Regions from separate parts of the Homo sapiens genome. Here region 2 is linked to region 1. Evidence: fine-mapped expression QTL. Tissue or cell type: monocytes after LPS. Region 1 holds a variant in brackets; the other region holds the start of a gene. All regions are shown on one strand. Distances are from middle to middle.

Region 1 (8,185 bases):
CAGTGCCACTGCACTCCAGCCTGGGCAACAGAGCAACACTCTGTCTCAAAAAAAAAAAAAAAAAAAGAAAGGAAAAAAAGAAAAAGAAAAAAATCGTGAATCGTAGATTCTACCTGAGTCTTCAGCAAATGTTTTCCAGAAGTCAGTGCTCACTCATCTAAGTTTTCCAGCAAGGTTTGGTGGAAATGAATGTGTGAGGGTGTGTGTGTGTGTGTGTGTGTGTGTGTAGCAAATAAACAAACATGTAACCTCCAAGCTCAGTTATTCTTCTCTTTGTTTTATAGTTCTCCACCTATGAACTATGGACTATAAACTATGTTTTATAGTTCTCCAACCAGTTGACTAGTAGGCTGGGGAACATTTGAGTAGGATAGTAGAATGCTATGTTTAATTTTTCTTCTTTATCCTTATTTTGTACTATTGCAAACCAGAGGCCAAGAAAAGAAAAAAGAAAAAAAAAAAGAAAGAAAATTCCTGAAATCTAAGCAAAACACAATTTCCCAATAAAGAAAGAAGCTTTTTGCTTTTCTTTGAATTCTAGAAACTTTGTCTCACTACTCTTTCTGTTTCTATTACATTTTTGAGTGTCTGGGTTTCCATCTCCAATTAGCAAATACCTCAGAGAAGGGGAATAGTCGGTTGGGGGAAGAGGTTTGTAAATGTGCTGTGTGCCTCAGTAGGACCTTGTGTAGGAAAGAGAAGAATAACTGAACTTGGAGGTTATATTCAGCATTCTGGTGCTGTGATTGCCAGGAAGTTTGTGTATTTTGGACTAGCTGTCTCTTGTGTGTGGCTCCCAGCCTATCTTCCTTTGGAAAGCTGTCCTTCCCTCCATGTTGGTAGGATAAGAGCCCTGTTTTCCCCTGACACTAGGGTGGACACATGACCCAAGACTGGCCAATCAGAGTAGCCCATTACTCTGACTGTGGTAATTGGCTCAGCCATGAGCACATGACTCAAACAGGCCCACCAAAACCCTGCCTTGCGATGCGATCTGTGAAAGCAGAAAAAGAGTCTCTCTCTTCTTTGAGGGCCAGGAGTTATAAGGGCAAGGTGGTCTTGGGGTTATGAGCAGACATCTTGCTGGTGATAGACGGAGAGAGAGCCTAAGATTGAAACCCAGCAGAGGTATATGGAGAGAGAGGGAGAAGAGAGTACAGGAATCACAAACTGGGGCCCAGATCTTATCATACTGAAACCAGATACACATTTCAGATTTCCCAGCCAATACATTACTTTTTTTTTTTTTTTTGCTTAAGTGCTAGTTTGAGTTGTTTCCATCTTTTGTGTAGACACACACACACACACACACACACACACACACATACACACACTCACATATTCATTTCCACCAAACCTTGTTGGAAAAATTAGATATAAATTCATGTATACTTTCCATCCACCACCAAACATTGGCCATTTCTCATGTAGGACAGTTAGGTAGCTTTTCTGGACTCAAATATATAACAGAAAACTTTCCATTCTTCAAGTACAGATTATTATCCAGAAGAAAAGTCAAAGCATATGTTTGTATCTGTGATAAGAACAAACAGTGCCGAGAGTGAGTTGCTTAATGGAAATTAATTTTCATTTTGAATGTACTTTATTACAACTTCATTACCTAATTAGAAGTGGTATTTTCAGCCAACTCTTTGTTCTTATTCATAACAAGAAAACCTATTTTTCCTTAGGTTGATAAACAAGTGAATATTTTTTTTCCTATATCTTAAGTTTAAAAAGAAAAGTCATAAACTGGGGAGCTCGGTGGGCTGTATTTGTGACTTGTACAAAATGATCCCACTTCCTGAGCCATTGAAAGACAAATTGCTGTTGAAAACAGTGTTCTGGTTGTTGCCAGGCCACTTAAGCTAATACTGAAGATGAGTCATTAGATATAAACCCTAGGAAGTGAAGACTCAGAAGGAGAGGAGATGGACCTGTGACCTCCTTTTCCATCCTCATTCACTGCAGTAAAGAAGGAAAACCCAACCATATAGATAAATTGGAAGCCCTGGGAGTCCTAACTTTAGACCTACTTCTACCAACGTTAAGAAACTGAATAAGGAAATTCTTTAGCCTCTCTCAGTTTCTGTACTACAAGTGGGATTGTCTAAGGGTTCTGGTGATGATTCCATTGAAAAATCTTGGATTAATAAAGCAGCCAACAGCAGACTTTTTTAGTGATCTTAACACTTCACGACTTGAAACACCACTTAGAGAAAATGCCACGAGTCTCAGGAAATTATTACCATGTTACCTTGGAATACTAATTGTAGTTCTGCAAAGTCAGGTTGCCCTGGAAAGTCCTAGAATTCTGTTTAATACGGTAGTATTCTTTTTCTTTGTCTCCATTAATCATTTAGTGAAAGTGACCAAATATAATATTATGAAGCTCTGAGGCAAGTCAGAAACTATTTGAGCTGGAAGAGAATATAACCTATTAACTTTCTAAATGAATGAAGAGTAACTCATAGCAGTTGTGAGATTTGCTCAAAAGGTCTGATTGTTGTTTAGGGGTAGCTCAGGCACCAGGATTAAGTGTTTATTAAGTGTTTGTCACGCATTCTGCTCACCAGCTTCCATCAGCCTTTCTCAAAGCATGTGCCTTCGAATACTAGTGAGCAGATATTTTGTACAAAAGACTTTATATTTTGTACAAGACTATATTTTGTACAAAAAGACTTTACTAGACAAATGTATTTGGGAAGTAGCATGTACTGTAGCTCTTCTTGGAGCATACTAAAGACCAACAAAAAAGGTTATTTACCTATACTTATCAGAGAGTTTTCCCAGAATGTTTGGCTAAGGAAAGCTTCTTCTGTGGAACACTCACTCAACATGAGTAGGTCAAGTTTTCCATGCGAGAAAGACTTGTAAGTCTGATTGGTATTTGTTCTGCCTCGTAAACTCAAGCTTCTGGGTACATTTTAAACTCTGTTCTGGGGTTTATTGGGCCAGCTTAAAATATAAAAATGCTAAATTAAAAAATTAAATATTCTACTAGGGGAAAATTTCAGGCATATTGTTTCCAGCATTTTAACAGCAAAATACCAAAATGCCATAACTTAGGAAATACCAAAGTGCCATAACTCAGTGAAATTTAGCATGTGGTTTTTGGAATCAAACACTCTGACAATTAACTGTCTGAGTAAGCTTGAAATATGAGCCCATGAGTCAGGATGACCAAGCCAGCTCTACATGGGTGTGCCTAGTAGACAAAGAATTATTAGTAACACTAAGTGGGCCTATTAGCCAATACTATCACACGTCTTCTAGTAAAATTGCTA[C/T]ATTTCACTAGGAGATGTGCAATTCATATGGCTTCAGGGACCAGGCAGTTGCCTACATTGAGAAAAACACAATAAGGAGTACAAAGGACCATTTCGATTTGGGGACCACCTGCCCCCTAAAAACAAAAGAAAGAAATTACACTATATCATCCAAGTAAGATTCATTTGTGGGCTGAATTATTACATGGGCTGACTATGTGCTCTGTGTTAGCCTTAAAAGTGTAGGCATGATTTCAGCAATAGCAGCTAGAGTGATCCTAGGAAATTGTGCCATTCTGCTACCTCATAGGATCAGGGAGCAGAGGAAACAGCATATCAGCGTCAGGATTTAGGATTCAAGATTATAATCCATGAGCTTTATCTTACAAACAATATGTGGATTTGCCATTCCTATGAAATTAGCAGAGAAGGAAATATATTTATCATCCAAACCAGCCTGATCATTATTGATTTGTTTGTTAGTTCAGAGAAATCTAGAGGAGCCCTACTTCTGGGGCATTATTTTTCACTCGCGTCCATGTGAAGAGACCACCAAACAGGCTTTGTGTGAGCAATAAAGCTTTTTAATCACCTGGGTGCAGGCAGGCTGAGTCTGAAAAGAGAGTCAGTGAAGGGAGATGGGGTGGGGACATTTTATAAGATTTGGGTGGGTAGTGGAAAATTATAGTCAAAGGGGGTTGTTCTCTGGCAGGCAGCGGTGGGGGTCACAAGGTGCTCAGTGGGGGAGCTTTTGAGCCAGGATGAGCCAGGAGAAGGAATTTCATAAGGTAATGTCATCAGTTAAGGCAGGGACTGGCAATTTTCACTTCTTTTGTGATTCTTCAGTTACTTCAGGCCATCTGGATGTATACGTGCAGGTCACAGGAGATATGATGGCTTAGCTTGGTCTCAGAGGCCTGACATTCCTGTCTTCTTATATTAATAAGAAAAATAAAACGAAATAGTGGTAAAGTGTTGGGGCAGCGAAAATTTTGGGGGGTCGTATGGAGAGATAATGGGCGATGTTTCTCAGGGCTGCTTCAAGCGGGATTGGGGCAACGTGTGAACCTAGAGTGGGAGAGATTAAGCTGAAGGAAGATTGTGTGGTAAGGGGCGATATTGTGGGGTTGTTAAAAGGAGCATTTGTCATACAGAATGATTGGTGATGGCCTGGATGCAGTTTTGTATGAATTGAGAGACTAAACAGAAGACACAAGGTCCGAATAAGAGAAGGAGAAAAACAGGTATTAAAGGACTAAGAATTGGGAGGGCCCAGAACATCCAATTAGAGAGTGCATAAGGGGGTTCAGCCTAATTACTTGCATGGTTGGCAAGTTTTTGGGCTGTATCCTTGACAGAGTCCTCCTTTTTAAGTTGGAGGCTGAGCTTAGTGAGGTGTGTTTCTAAAAGACCATTAGTGTGTTCTACCTTTCCTGAAGATTGAGGCATAAGGGGTATGAAGTTTCCACTGAATACCAAGAGCCTGAGAAACTGCTTGGGTGATTTGACTAATAAAGGCCAGTCTGTTATTGGACTGTATAGAGGTGGGAAGGCCAAACCGAGGAATTATGTCTGACAGAAGGGAAGAAATGACCGTGGTGGCCTTTTCAGACCATGTAGGAAAGGCCTCTACCCATCCAGTGAAAGTGTCTACCCAGACCAAGAGGTATTTTAGTTTCCTGACTTGGGGCATGTGAGTAAAGTCAATTTGCCAGTCCTGGACAGGGGCAAATCCCTGAGCTTGATGTGTAGGGAAGGGAGGGGTCCTGAGAAATCCCTGAGGATTAGTAGAATAGCAGATGGAATACTGAGAAGTGATTTCCTTAAGGATAGATTCTCATGATGGAAAGGAAATGAGAGGTTCTAAGAGATGGGCTAGCAGCTTGTAACCTACATGGAAGAGGTTATGAAATGATGACAGAATAGAATGGGCCTGTGAGGCTGGAAGGAGATATTTTCCTTGGTCCAAGAACCATTTGCCTTGGGTGGGAGAGATTGATAGGTGGAAGTTTTAGTGGGAGTAGGTGGGAGTGGCCAGATGAGAAGGAGAAAAACTGCCGTGAGGGATAGAAGTTGGAACGCCAGCTGCTTTTTTAGTTACCTTATCAGCATAAGCATTGTCCTGAGCAATGGGATCAGCCTTTTGATGGCTGCTTTTTTAGCTACCTTATCAGCATAAGTGTTGTCCTAAGTGATGGGATCTGATGCCTTTTGATGGCCCTTGCTGTCAATGACTCCAGCTTCCTTTGGAAGTAAAGCAGTTTTGAGAAGAGTTTTTATTAAAGAGGCGTTAATGATGGAGGACCCTTGTGTAGTGAGAAAACTTCTTTCAGCCCGTATAACAGCATGGTGGTGCAGGATATGGAAGGCATATTTAGAGTCAGTATAAATATTGACATGTAGTACCTTTGCAAGAGTGAGGGCCCGAGTTAAGGCAATGAGTTTGGCTTGCTGAGAGGTGGTGGAGGGGGGCAGAGTGGTAGCCAGATGTGGAAGATACTATAGCATGGCCTACCTTTGCTGGTGAGTGGCAGCGATTAAGCCTGGTGGAACTGCCATCAATAAACCAGGTGTGATCAGGATGAGGAACAGGAAAGAAGGAAATATGGGGAAATGGAGTGAATGTCAGGTGGATCAGAGAGATACAGTCATGGGGTTCAGGTGTGGTATCCGGAATAATGTGGGAGGCCAGATTGAAGTCTGGGCCAGGGACAATGGTAATTGTGGGAGACTCAACAAAGAGTGAGTATAGCTGAAGGAGCCAGGCAGCAGAAAGTATATGTGTCAGGTGGGAGGAAGAAAATAGATTTTGGAAGTTATGAGAACTGTAGAGAGTGAGTTGAGCATAGTTTGTGAATTTGAGGGCCTCTAAAAGTATTAAAGCAGTGGCAACCACCGCACGCAGACATGAGGGCTAGGCTAAAACAGTAAGGTCAAGTTGTTTGGACAGAAAGGCTCCAGGGCGTGGTCCCGGCTTTTGTGTAAGAACTCCAACCGCACAGCCCTGCACTTTGGCTGTGTGTGATGAAAAAGGGTTGGGATGAGTTATGGAAAGCCAGTGTGGGAGCAGCTTCTAGGTCTGTTTTTAAGGAACGGAAAGGAGTAGGGAAAGGATTTAGGATCTGTGGGGTCAACTAGGTTTGCTTTTGTGAGTTTATATAATGGTTTAGTCAGGATGGTAAAACTAAGTATCCAAAGGCGGAAGTACCTAACCATGCCTAGGAAGGAAAGGAGTTGTTGTTTTGTAGAAGGAATTGGGGTTTTGGAGATTAGCCAGATGTGATCAGCAGGGAGAGCACGTGTGTTTTCACGAAGAATTATGCTGAGATAGGTAATGGATGAGGAAGAAATTTGGGCTTGACTGAAGTAATGGGGGCTGTCTGTGAAGCCTTGCAGCAGTACAGTCCAGGTAATTTGCTGAGCCTGATGAGTGTCAGGGTCAGTCTAAGTGAAAGTGAAGAGAGGCTGGGATGAAGGGTGCAAAGGAATAGTAAAGAAAGCATGAGATCCAGAACAGAATAATGGGTTGTGGAGGGAGGTATTGAGGATAGGAGAGTATATGGCTTTGGCACCATGGGGTAGATAGGCAAGAAAATTTGGTTGATAATGTGTAGATCCTGAACTAACCTGTAAGGCTTGTCTGGTTTTAGGACAGGTAAAATGGGGGAATTGTAAGGAGAGTTTATAGGCTTTAAAAGGCCATGCTGTAGCGGGTGAGTGATAACAGACTTCAATCCTTTTAAAGCGTACTGTGGGATGGGATATTGGCGTTGAGCGGGGTAAGGGTGATTAGGTTTTAATGGGATGGTGAGGGCATGTGATCGGTTGCTAGGGAGGGAATGGAGGTGTCCTATACTTGTGGGTTAAGGTTAGGGGATACAAGGGAAGGATGTGAAGAAGGCTCTGAACTGGAGGAAACGGCGGCAATGAGATGTAGCTGTAGTCGAGGAATAGTCAGGGAAGCAGATAATTTAGTTAAAATGTCTCAACCTAATAAGGGAACTGGGCAGGTGGGGATAACTAAAAGGAGTGCTTAAAAGAGTATTGTCTAAGTTGGCACCAGAATTGGGGAGTTTTAAGAGGTTTAGAAGCCTGGCTGTCAATACCCACAACAGTTATGGAGGCAAAGGAAACAGGCCCTTGAAAAGAAGGTAATGTGGATTCGGTAGCCTCTGTATTGATTAAGAAGGGTGTGGACTTACCCTCCACTGTGAGAGTTACCCAAAGCTCGGCATCTGTGATGGTCTACAGGGCTTCTGAGGCGATCGGGCAGCATCAGTCTTCAGCTGCTAAGCTGAGAAGACCTGGGAAGGAGTCAGTCAGAGAGCCTTGGGCCAGAGTTCCAGGGACTCTGGAAGTGGCTGCCAGGTGAGTTGAACAGTCTGGTTTTCAGTGGGGTCCCGCACAGATGGGACATGGCTTAGGAGGAATTCTGGGCTGCGGGCATTCCTTGGCCCAGTGGCCAGATTTCCAGCACTTGTAGCAAGCTCCCGGGGGAAGAGATTTTGGGGGAACCCCTGGCAGCTGTGGTTCAGGTGTTTGGAGTTCTTGTGTGCTGGAGATGTGGCTGGGGTTTGTCTCACAGTGGAGGCAAGGAATTGCAACCTAGAAATATGTTGCTACTTGGCTGCCTCTACTCTATTATCTTACACCTTGAAAGCGAGGTTAATTAAGTGCTGTTGTGGGGTTTGAGGGCTGGAATTTAATCTTTGGAGTTTTATTTAATGTCGGGAGCAAATTGGGTAATAAAACGTATATTGAGAATAAGATGGCCTTTTGACCTTTTAGGGTCTAGGGCTGTAAAGCATCTCCGGGTTGCTGCCAAATGAGCCATGAACTGGGCTGGGTTTTATATTTGATGAAAAAGAGCCTGAACGCTAACTGATTTGGGAGAGGTGGGATAAAGAAAAAGGAGTATT
Region 2 (8,185 bases), 48 kb before region 1:
CGGACAAATCTTCGCTAACAATGAAGCGGATATGGGGTGGGTGGTGAAAACTAAAATCAATTTTGGATTTATTTTGGGGTGTTTTTTTGGCCTAAAGGGCACGGGTAAGCGCACCAGACTGCAGGTAACTGATTGGAACACAGGAGCATGCTCAAGCTAGCTTAACATGCCAATCTGGGACTCGCTTCATATTGGTGAGAGTCGAAGCTGTGGGAACATGGTTCACCCAAATACACAGAGCACAAAAGGGATGACAGCGAACCCTGGGTAACCCCAAGAGGTAGCAGAGATGCCAGGGAGGAATAAGGAAAACCAGAAGGTGGCAACCAGGGATGGAAAAAAAAAAAAAAACCATCAGAAAGGAATAGAAGAACCTCATCAAATGCCACGGAGAAACCTAGTGGGTATCCATAAGATTGCTTGTTCAGATGAGAACACAGGGACACAGGGAGGGAAACATCACACACTGGGGCCTGTGGTGGGGGGCGGGGAGTGAGGTAGGGGAGGGATAGCATTAGGAGAAATACCTAATGTGATGGGTTGATGGGTGCAGCAAACCACCATGGCACGTGTATACCTATGTAACAAACCTGCACGTTCTGCACATGTACCCCAGAGCTTAAAGCATATTAATAAAAATTAAAAAAAAAAAAAAAAGATTGCTTGTTCAGGAAGTCACAGGCCTTGAACTTTGAGGAGACTCTGGCCAGCTTGCAAAGAGCTGAACAGGAAGGGCAGACCAGTTTAAGAAGCCTGGAGAGACGTGGTTGTCACTACAGGTGAGCTGAGGATGCAGGGACAAGGGAGGTTAAGGCATTCTTAAAATACTACTAAAAAAGAAAAAAGCTCACAGGGAGAGACTGAAGATAAAAGTAAGAAAAGGGAGTAACACTCACAAGGAGAGAGAGGCACTGGGAGTTGGGATTCAGGACACAGCTGGAGACATTAGTCACTGCCCCAAGGAGGCCATCTCTCTATATTTCTCTAAGTTCTCAGTCTAACTTGATTTTTCTTTATAATTCTACCTTATTCATTTATCATACATTTTACAACATATTATGTTTGCTTTTAGTTGGTTTTCTCCCACAAGAATGACAGTTTCAAGCGAGCAAGGATCTGCTCTATTTACCACCTATGAGTATCCAACAAAGTACCCAGACACAGTAGATGCTTAAGAAGATTTATTGGATGACTGGGTAAACACAGAAAAGTCTGTACAGGGGAGATGGGGGAGGACGTGAGGAGATACTTATGACCTCTATTCTCCTGGTAGAATGGGCTACAAAGTCACCTGCCAAACCCGCAAGAGGAAAAGCATTGGAGATCGCTTGCATTGAAGATTACAGTGGGAGTCCGGTTTGCAACCCGGAAGGAAGGAGCTTGCGGGTTGGAGGCACTAAGAGTTTTCAGAAGTTGAGCATCTCAAGAGAGGGCAAGACTTGGAGGTACTTAGAGGACTTGGTAGCTGGAGTACATGGAAGACACTGGATTTGAGACAGTCAAGGAAGTGCGCATCTAGAGCGTCCCCCACATGGACTTTAGGTCTAGAGGAGGAGAAATAGCCCAAGAGCCAAAGTCCCCATGCGATGGGAAAAGAACTGGCTGGAAGAGGACAGCAAGGCTGAGATGCACCCAGGGACGTGGCCAGGTCACCACCTCATTTCCAACTCTACCACCTCAAACAATCTCTGACTGGTATTTAATCACCCTTGTGTGGAAGTGAAAATTAGCTTTTTTTGGAGACAGTACTTTTAAAATTAAACTAATATGAAGTTCATGGGACACGGAAATTTTCTGCATAGATTCATTTTTGTTTTTAGAATAAAATACGATGACATTTTCATGACCTTCAGTAATTGCCCTGCATGGTACGATATTTTCAAACATTATTTTAACAAAGAATCAAAATTTGGGGGTTAAAAGAAACCTTAGATTACTCAGGTTAGTACCTTCATTTGCATAGCCAAAAATTTTTCTATTGAAATACTGCAAATAGCAAATAAGTACTGATTTAGACCTTCAGATAGTGTTGAAACTGTCTTCAATTTTCGAAGTGTGGTTTAGGATATACAAATTAGCAATGTTGACAATTCTTCCAGTTATCTGTGCTCAAGTTTTGATATAAAATCTTCAAAGTACACAATTATCACATATATTGTTCCACAACAATTCAGACAAATAAACGGCTTCTTGGCTTGAAAGAGGAAGTCACACCTTCGAACACCTTTTTATGCTGATGCTAAATATAAGAACGTCCCCTGCAAAGTAGCCAAAGCAAGACAGCAGCATTCGAGATTTCTCCAGAGACACACACACAAAGAATGTGTTTCGTTCATTAAAACACTAAAACCTTCAACAGCATCTTCCATAATACCTGAAGGTGGAGTGCTGTCTTATGTAATAGAAGCCTTCCTTCCCCGCTCAGTTTGTGGACACATTAAATGCCTAATTCCTTCCAGAATTTCTGAGTACCGTACTTTCATTTTACCTGCAGTCACTCATCCGCCTCGCAACTCCCGTTTCTACAGATGATGAAAATAGCAAAGACCTGCTCGCTCGGGTTAAATCGGCTGCCAGAGGCCAAGTTAAAGGCTTTCCCCACACCGCGCGTCACCTCCCTCTGCCCAGGCAGAGGTAACAAGTAAGAGTGCGCCAGTCTCTCCCCATCCGGCGGCGCGCAGCCTAAGTCCGGGGTAGGGGTTGCCGGCGAGCAGCTGGAAACCTCAGGTTCAGGGTCAGGGCCGGCTCGGATGGCCGGGCAGGAGCCACGCCGGCCCCGGTGCTCCCAGCTGCGGGTATCACTGGACGCCACCCCGGGGCGGCCCCGCCTTGCCCTGCCCGGGTCCCGCTCGGGGCTCCCGGCGGGCGGGACCGGGATGCCCGGCGAGCACCCAGCCCCGGCCAAGGCGGCCCGCGGGAGGCTGAGAAAGTTCTCTGCTCCCCGACGTCGGCGCCCCAGGGTCCCGCTGGCCCCGCAGCTTCCCGGCCGGGCGCAAGGTCAGGGAGCAGGGCCGGTGGCGCGCGGAGCCCCGGGGAGCGTCCCCCGCCGAGGGCAGCGCCGGCCGCGCCCGGGACTCACCGCGCAGCCTGTACTCACCGCGCTCGCTGGATCCCCAGGGGGCGGCCGCGGAGGGCGGTGCGGCCGCAACCGGAGCGGGAGCCTGGTCTCGGCGGCGCGGGGAGTCGGAGGACGCAGCCAAGCGGCGGCGGCGAGGAGGGTCACAGCCGGAAAGAGGCAGCGGTGGCGCCTGCAGACGCCGCGCAGCCCGGGCAGCCCCACAGCGCAAGCTGGCTGCCGCGGCGGCGGGGGCTTTATCGGCGGCGCCGCGCGGGCCCCCGCCCCTTCCTGCCGCCCCCGCCCCCGGCCCGCCTTGCCCCGCCTTCCCGCCGCCTCCTTTGTGTGGCCGCGGGCCGCAGCGTCCCCGCGCCCGGCCTCCAGGACGCCCCCTCTCCGCCTGCGACTTCTCGGATGCCGCCCCGCCAGGGGTCCGTGTCGTGGGGCTGCGCCCGGAACGCGCCGGGGAGACGCGCAGACCCCGAGGTGCGGCGCCAGCCCGGGCCCAGCTGCACGTGGGTCTCCCGGATGGGGGTGTGTGAGGTGGCGGGGGGAATACCAGGGCTCGTACCGCGTCCCTGAGACGCAGGGCATGTCGTCTTGGCTGCCCCCTGGAAGAGACAGAGGGCGCCCTGAGACAGCGCTCAGTCCTCCGGGTGATGGGGAAACGGTGCCAGGACGCGGCCGGGAAGGGGCAGATAACCCCTCGAGGCGTTTTGCAGGGTGTCCTAGAGCTGACTTCTCCCTGCCTAGGGGACAGAGGAACGGCGGCAAGTCGCCTTAGGCAAATACAGACGAGGGGAACCAGAAAACTGGATTCCCGGCTATGGTGATAGCATGAGGTACCCGCAGCGTCCTGGGAACCCAGCCCTTCTCAGCCGGTAACCACTGCTGCTGGGACCCGGTGCGCGATAGACAGGCACATACCCCAGGGGCCTGCAACAAATGACCGTCCCGCTCCGGGCTCTGTTACCTGGACCTCTCTTAGTTGGTTCCTCCTTTGCCTCTAGTTAGGTTTCTGGGGACCCAAGGACCCAACTTTAATGACAGTAATTTATGTAGCCGTTAGTGTAGAATCGTCGCTAGCAGGCAGACGGCCCCAACAGCGAGGAAGAAATGTAAATCTCCCTATACACAGCCCTGGATTAAGGGTACAGCTACTGATGAGAGCCACTTGGAAGATCAGCCTGCAGTCACCCCTTGGCATGCAGGTGGCCGTGCCAGAGTGTGCACGTGTGTGTTGGGGAAGGGGTTGCTCTGAAAAGTGTAAAATCTGGACCAGCCTAAGGGTGTTCTCAGTCTCTCATAGAGGGAAACAGGCTATGGGAGGCTTGGTCCTAAAATAAGGAGCAAACAGTCTACAAAAATGAGCATCTGTTTAATTATTTTACAGTCATACCAAATATTTATATTCAGTTACAGGGTAACTTTCTTATTCTCTGTGCCTGAAATGCTTTTTGTCCCAGGATCTTCTATGTTGTCTGCATCCTTACACTTGAGGTCACAACTCAAATGTCCTCTCCCCTAGGAAGCCTCCCCTGACCACTTGAGATAAAGTCACTTTATCCCCTCTAACCTATGACTTCCTTCATAACCCTCATCATGAATTGATTTTTTTTTTACCTTGTTTCTTGCTAGTTTTCTTCTACTCTCTCTCATTGGAATATACTCCCAGAGACCAGGGAAGAGAAACTAATTTCAATATTGTTTCCAACTCACTCTATCCCTAGTGCCTAGAGCCATACCACACATATAGCAGTTACTCAATAAATTTTGTTGACGAGTGGATGAACTACTAGCCAAGTGACTTTTAGACATGCTAAGAACTGTTTCAGTGACAGTATTGTGCTTGGTCCAGTCAGGGCGGTGTGGGCTGGAGCTGGGAACAATTCAAAGGAGGGGGGAAAGCCCACAGGTGTGAATGAGCTCGTTCAGTGTGTTTGAAAAGCTGGGAGTATCCTCTTCCAGATGGAAGGGAGTCATTCAAGAAACTACTGGAGAAATAACTGGGAAATGTGGGTGAAGCCAGATTATTATGAAAATGTGCCAGAATCCCTGCATCCATTTCTGTCTCAATCACATTTCTAAATTAAAATTTGTAATAGAGGTAATTGTAGGCTGGCATGCAGTTGTTAAGAAATGATTCAGAGAGGTCTCTTTTACACTTTGCCAAGTCTTCCTCATGGTAACATTTTGCAAAACCATTGTATAATATCACAATCAGGATATTAACATTGATACGTTGATTCCTATCTCACACACTTTGGTTAATTATGTGTAACTTTAAATTTTTACTAAAGTTACTCAAACCAGTGAGAGAAATGCACAAAATTACTATTTTGAAGAGTTTCAGTCTCTTGTCTTGAAGGAGCCAATGTTTTTCAAGAAAAAACAACAACAAGCCTTTTTTGCTTTCCCAATTAGAGTGTAAATAGGGTCCAAATTCTTCATCTATGAAAGACGTTAGAAGTCCTTAGGACTTACCTCTTTGGGTTACACTTTAATGACTGACATTTACTTCCCCATTCTTTCCTGTAGTGTCGAAGGAACATTTTGAGCAATACTGTACGTGACTTGTCAATTCTGAAATCACAGTGGATGCAGTGCTAACTAATATGCTAAAGTAAGCCTAGACACTAATGTTCCCTTCTCTCTCGCTAGACATGCGATGAGGCCAACGATGAGGTCTCCCAAAGGAAAGTGATTGAAGACAAAGACCCATTCTGCCAGTGGGATATGCTGGGAATACCAACTATACTTGTTACTGAGTGTGCATGGCTGGTGTTGGCCAGCCTTCCTGATGCCAGCAAGAGGAGACAGAAGTAATGACCCAAGCTACACTTTCCATGACACTCAAATGGCCAGGCTCTTTGACACCCACCGTGAGGGGCTGTTCCAAAGATGTTGTGTTCCTACCTCAGTTGGTCCCCACAAGCAGCAGGTTCCTCCTCCAGTATTCTCCAATATTTGACCCTTTTTGAGATGCATTTCTCATAGATGTGTACTTCCAATCCACATTTCCTTCCTACCTCTACCTCGGTTTTGTTTGAGAAATCCAAATCATTTAACACTTCTACCTGCTGTTTCTTTGTGACTTCACATTCACAGTGAAATTTCATTTTGTCCTGCAATTGTGTGGCTTGCCTTAATCCGCAAATAGAGCTTCAAATTGTTTATTCCTTTGACCTGGAGTTTAGCCAGCTCCAGCTAGGCTCTGAGTTTGGCTTTGTGTCCATAAGCCACAGTTGGGAGAAATGCAAGAACTGCCCAAACAGAATAAAACAAATGATCTATTTAGTCTTGTTTCCTCTCTTGGAAGAAGTCCAGCGTTGAGTGCCTTGGAATAAATGAAAATCCCCCACCCCACCTCCACTGCTCTCCCATGCACCCAAACAGTATGACCTTGTGTTTAAGTAAAAACCGTCCTTAGCTCCCAGTGGGATGATGGTGTTTTGTCTGGAAGACTGACGGATGTTATGATAATAAGATAATGGATACTCACTTCTCTCCTATCTAACCCCTATTTAAAAGACATTACACCGTAACAGTGCTTGTTACGCAATATTATAGTTGCAAATGTTGTTATGGAAGATTGTTTCAACCAGGGGAAAAGAGACTGGTAATAACAGTACACTTATACAATTAGTTTCTGAAACTGTTGCATTGCTTTGGGGTTTTTTTTTTTAGCTTAGAAAAGACATTTATCTTTTTATTTCCCTTTAAAGTTGGCTTTCAAATAAATTCAATTTCCTCTTTCTGTAACTTCTGAAACAGATTAAACCAGAGCATCAGTTTGCACTTTGCTATTGTCGTCACTAGTTTTCACCAAGAGCTTCAGAGAAAAGACATTACTAAGTGCTGGGCTGGGTATTATTTTCTACTTATATGTGACCAAATAGGATGTAACAGCCAGGTTCTGAGAGTCGTTGTGATACTGACCCCTTCAAACAACAGCCCAGCTGCTCTCCTTCCTTTTACCACCAAACAATAGATGCTGCCTCCCTTTTTCCATGGGTCTCTTCGGTCAATCTTCTTACCCCATCATCGGGCTCCCCTCCTTTTCTTCCTCGCTTCCTCGGGCCCTCCTTCTCTCCCAAATGTTACCAATAGCTTCCAATGGCAACCCCAGTAGTTTTTCAACATTCTTTATCACCTTTGAGTCCTTGGCAGGATTTCACTCTCATATGTGTGCCCATTTTTTGGAAACTCCTTTGCCTATTTTCTCTCTTCCTATGCCTTAACTTGCCTTTATCCTTTTTCCATCAAATCTTCCAACAGGTGGGCACCATGCAGTTGACTGTCCTCAGCTCCCTCCTCTTTTCTCCACACTCTCTCCCAGTGGAACGAACATTGATTTATCTGTGGCCACCAACACTTGTTCCCCTCCTCACCTTTTGATAGTGGAAACACCTCTTCTATTTTATGCAGCATTTTGTTGGGAAGGAAATCAAGGTATCCTTACTTTCACTAGCCAAGGGATGGGCATATGACCAAGCTCACTGGATTCCCTCCCAGTTCTTTGAATCTTGAAAAGAATGAAAAAGTAATTGCAGCTGACTTATCTCAGCTTGATGAATGATGAATTTGTGAGTTCTTCCTACCCGGACCTCAGAGCTGCCATAGACCCTGTCCCGTCTGAGCAGAGGTCCACAGTGAACTCTGTTTCTGTGAGACTTTTCTACTTGTTAGCCAGATTCAGTTTCTGTTGCCAGCAACCTAGGATGCCTAACTGACATACCTTAAATGTCTGTAACTTTGCTTAGTTCTGGATGAATTCTAAGCCCATATCTACAGATGGCCTTGGCCACCATCCCAAGGTACCACTCATCTATCTCCAAGTGCCTGGCAGACACCTCCACTTAATATCCCACCATCACCTCCCACCTAACAAGTCAAACCCACTTATTATCTTCATCCCCCAACCAGTTCTTCCTCCTGTGTTCCATGTGTTTTACAGACATGACTTCCATCTCAGTCACCAAAGCACAAAGATGGGAATGAATTCTTTCTTTCTTTCTTCTTTCCTTCCTTCCTTCCTTCCTTCCTTCCTTTTTCTTTCTTTCCCTCTTTCTTTTCTTTCTTTCTTTCTTTCTTTCTTTCTTTCTTTCTTTCTTTCTTTCTTTCTTTCTT

Which allele goes with the higher level. Alleles are on the strand shown, and positions count from the first base shown. SD is a standard deviation of normalised expression in the study named.
With allele C in place of T in region 1, the expression in monocytes after LPS of the gene that starts at base 3,285 in region 2 is higher (large effect, 2.0 SD a copy in Quach 2016).

What was found. PIP is the estimated chance that this variant, and not a neighbour inherited with it, causes the effect.
Region 2: SERPINE2 starts here. The variant in region 1 is fine-mapped to the expression of SERPINE2 in monocytes after LPS (Quach 2016, PIP 0.95).

Annotation. Positions count from the first base shown.
Region 1 is chr2:224,083,562-224,091,746 of GRCh38, forward strand. No RefSeq gene overlaps it. Among named protein-coding and RNA genes, the nearest start is that of SERPINE2, 48 kb to the left of the region's middle. The variant C/T (reference allele first, on the strand shown) is at 3,288.
Region 2 is chr2:224,036,002-224,044,186 of GRCh38, forward strand. It overlaps SERPINE2 (serpin family E member 2), which reads right to left and starts at 3,285. Exons shown (of 9, transcript NM_001136528.2): 1 at 3,098-3,285. LOC124907991 (a long non-coding RNA gene) reads left to right here and starts at 3,401. Exons shown (of 2, transcript XR_007088103.1): 1 at 3,401-3,541; 2 at 5,717-6,491. RefSeq lists a silencer at 3,451-3,745.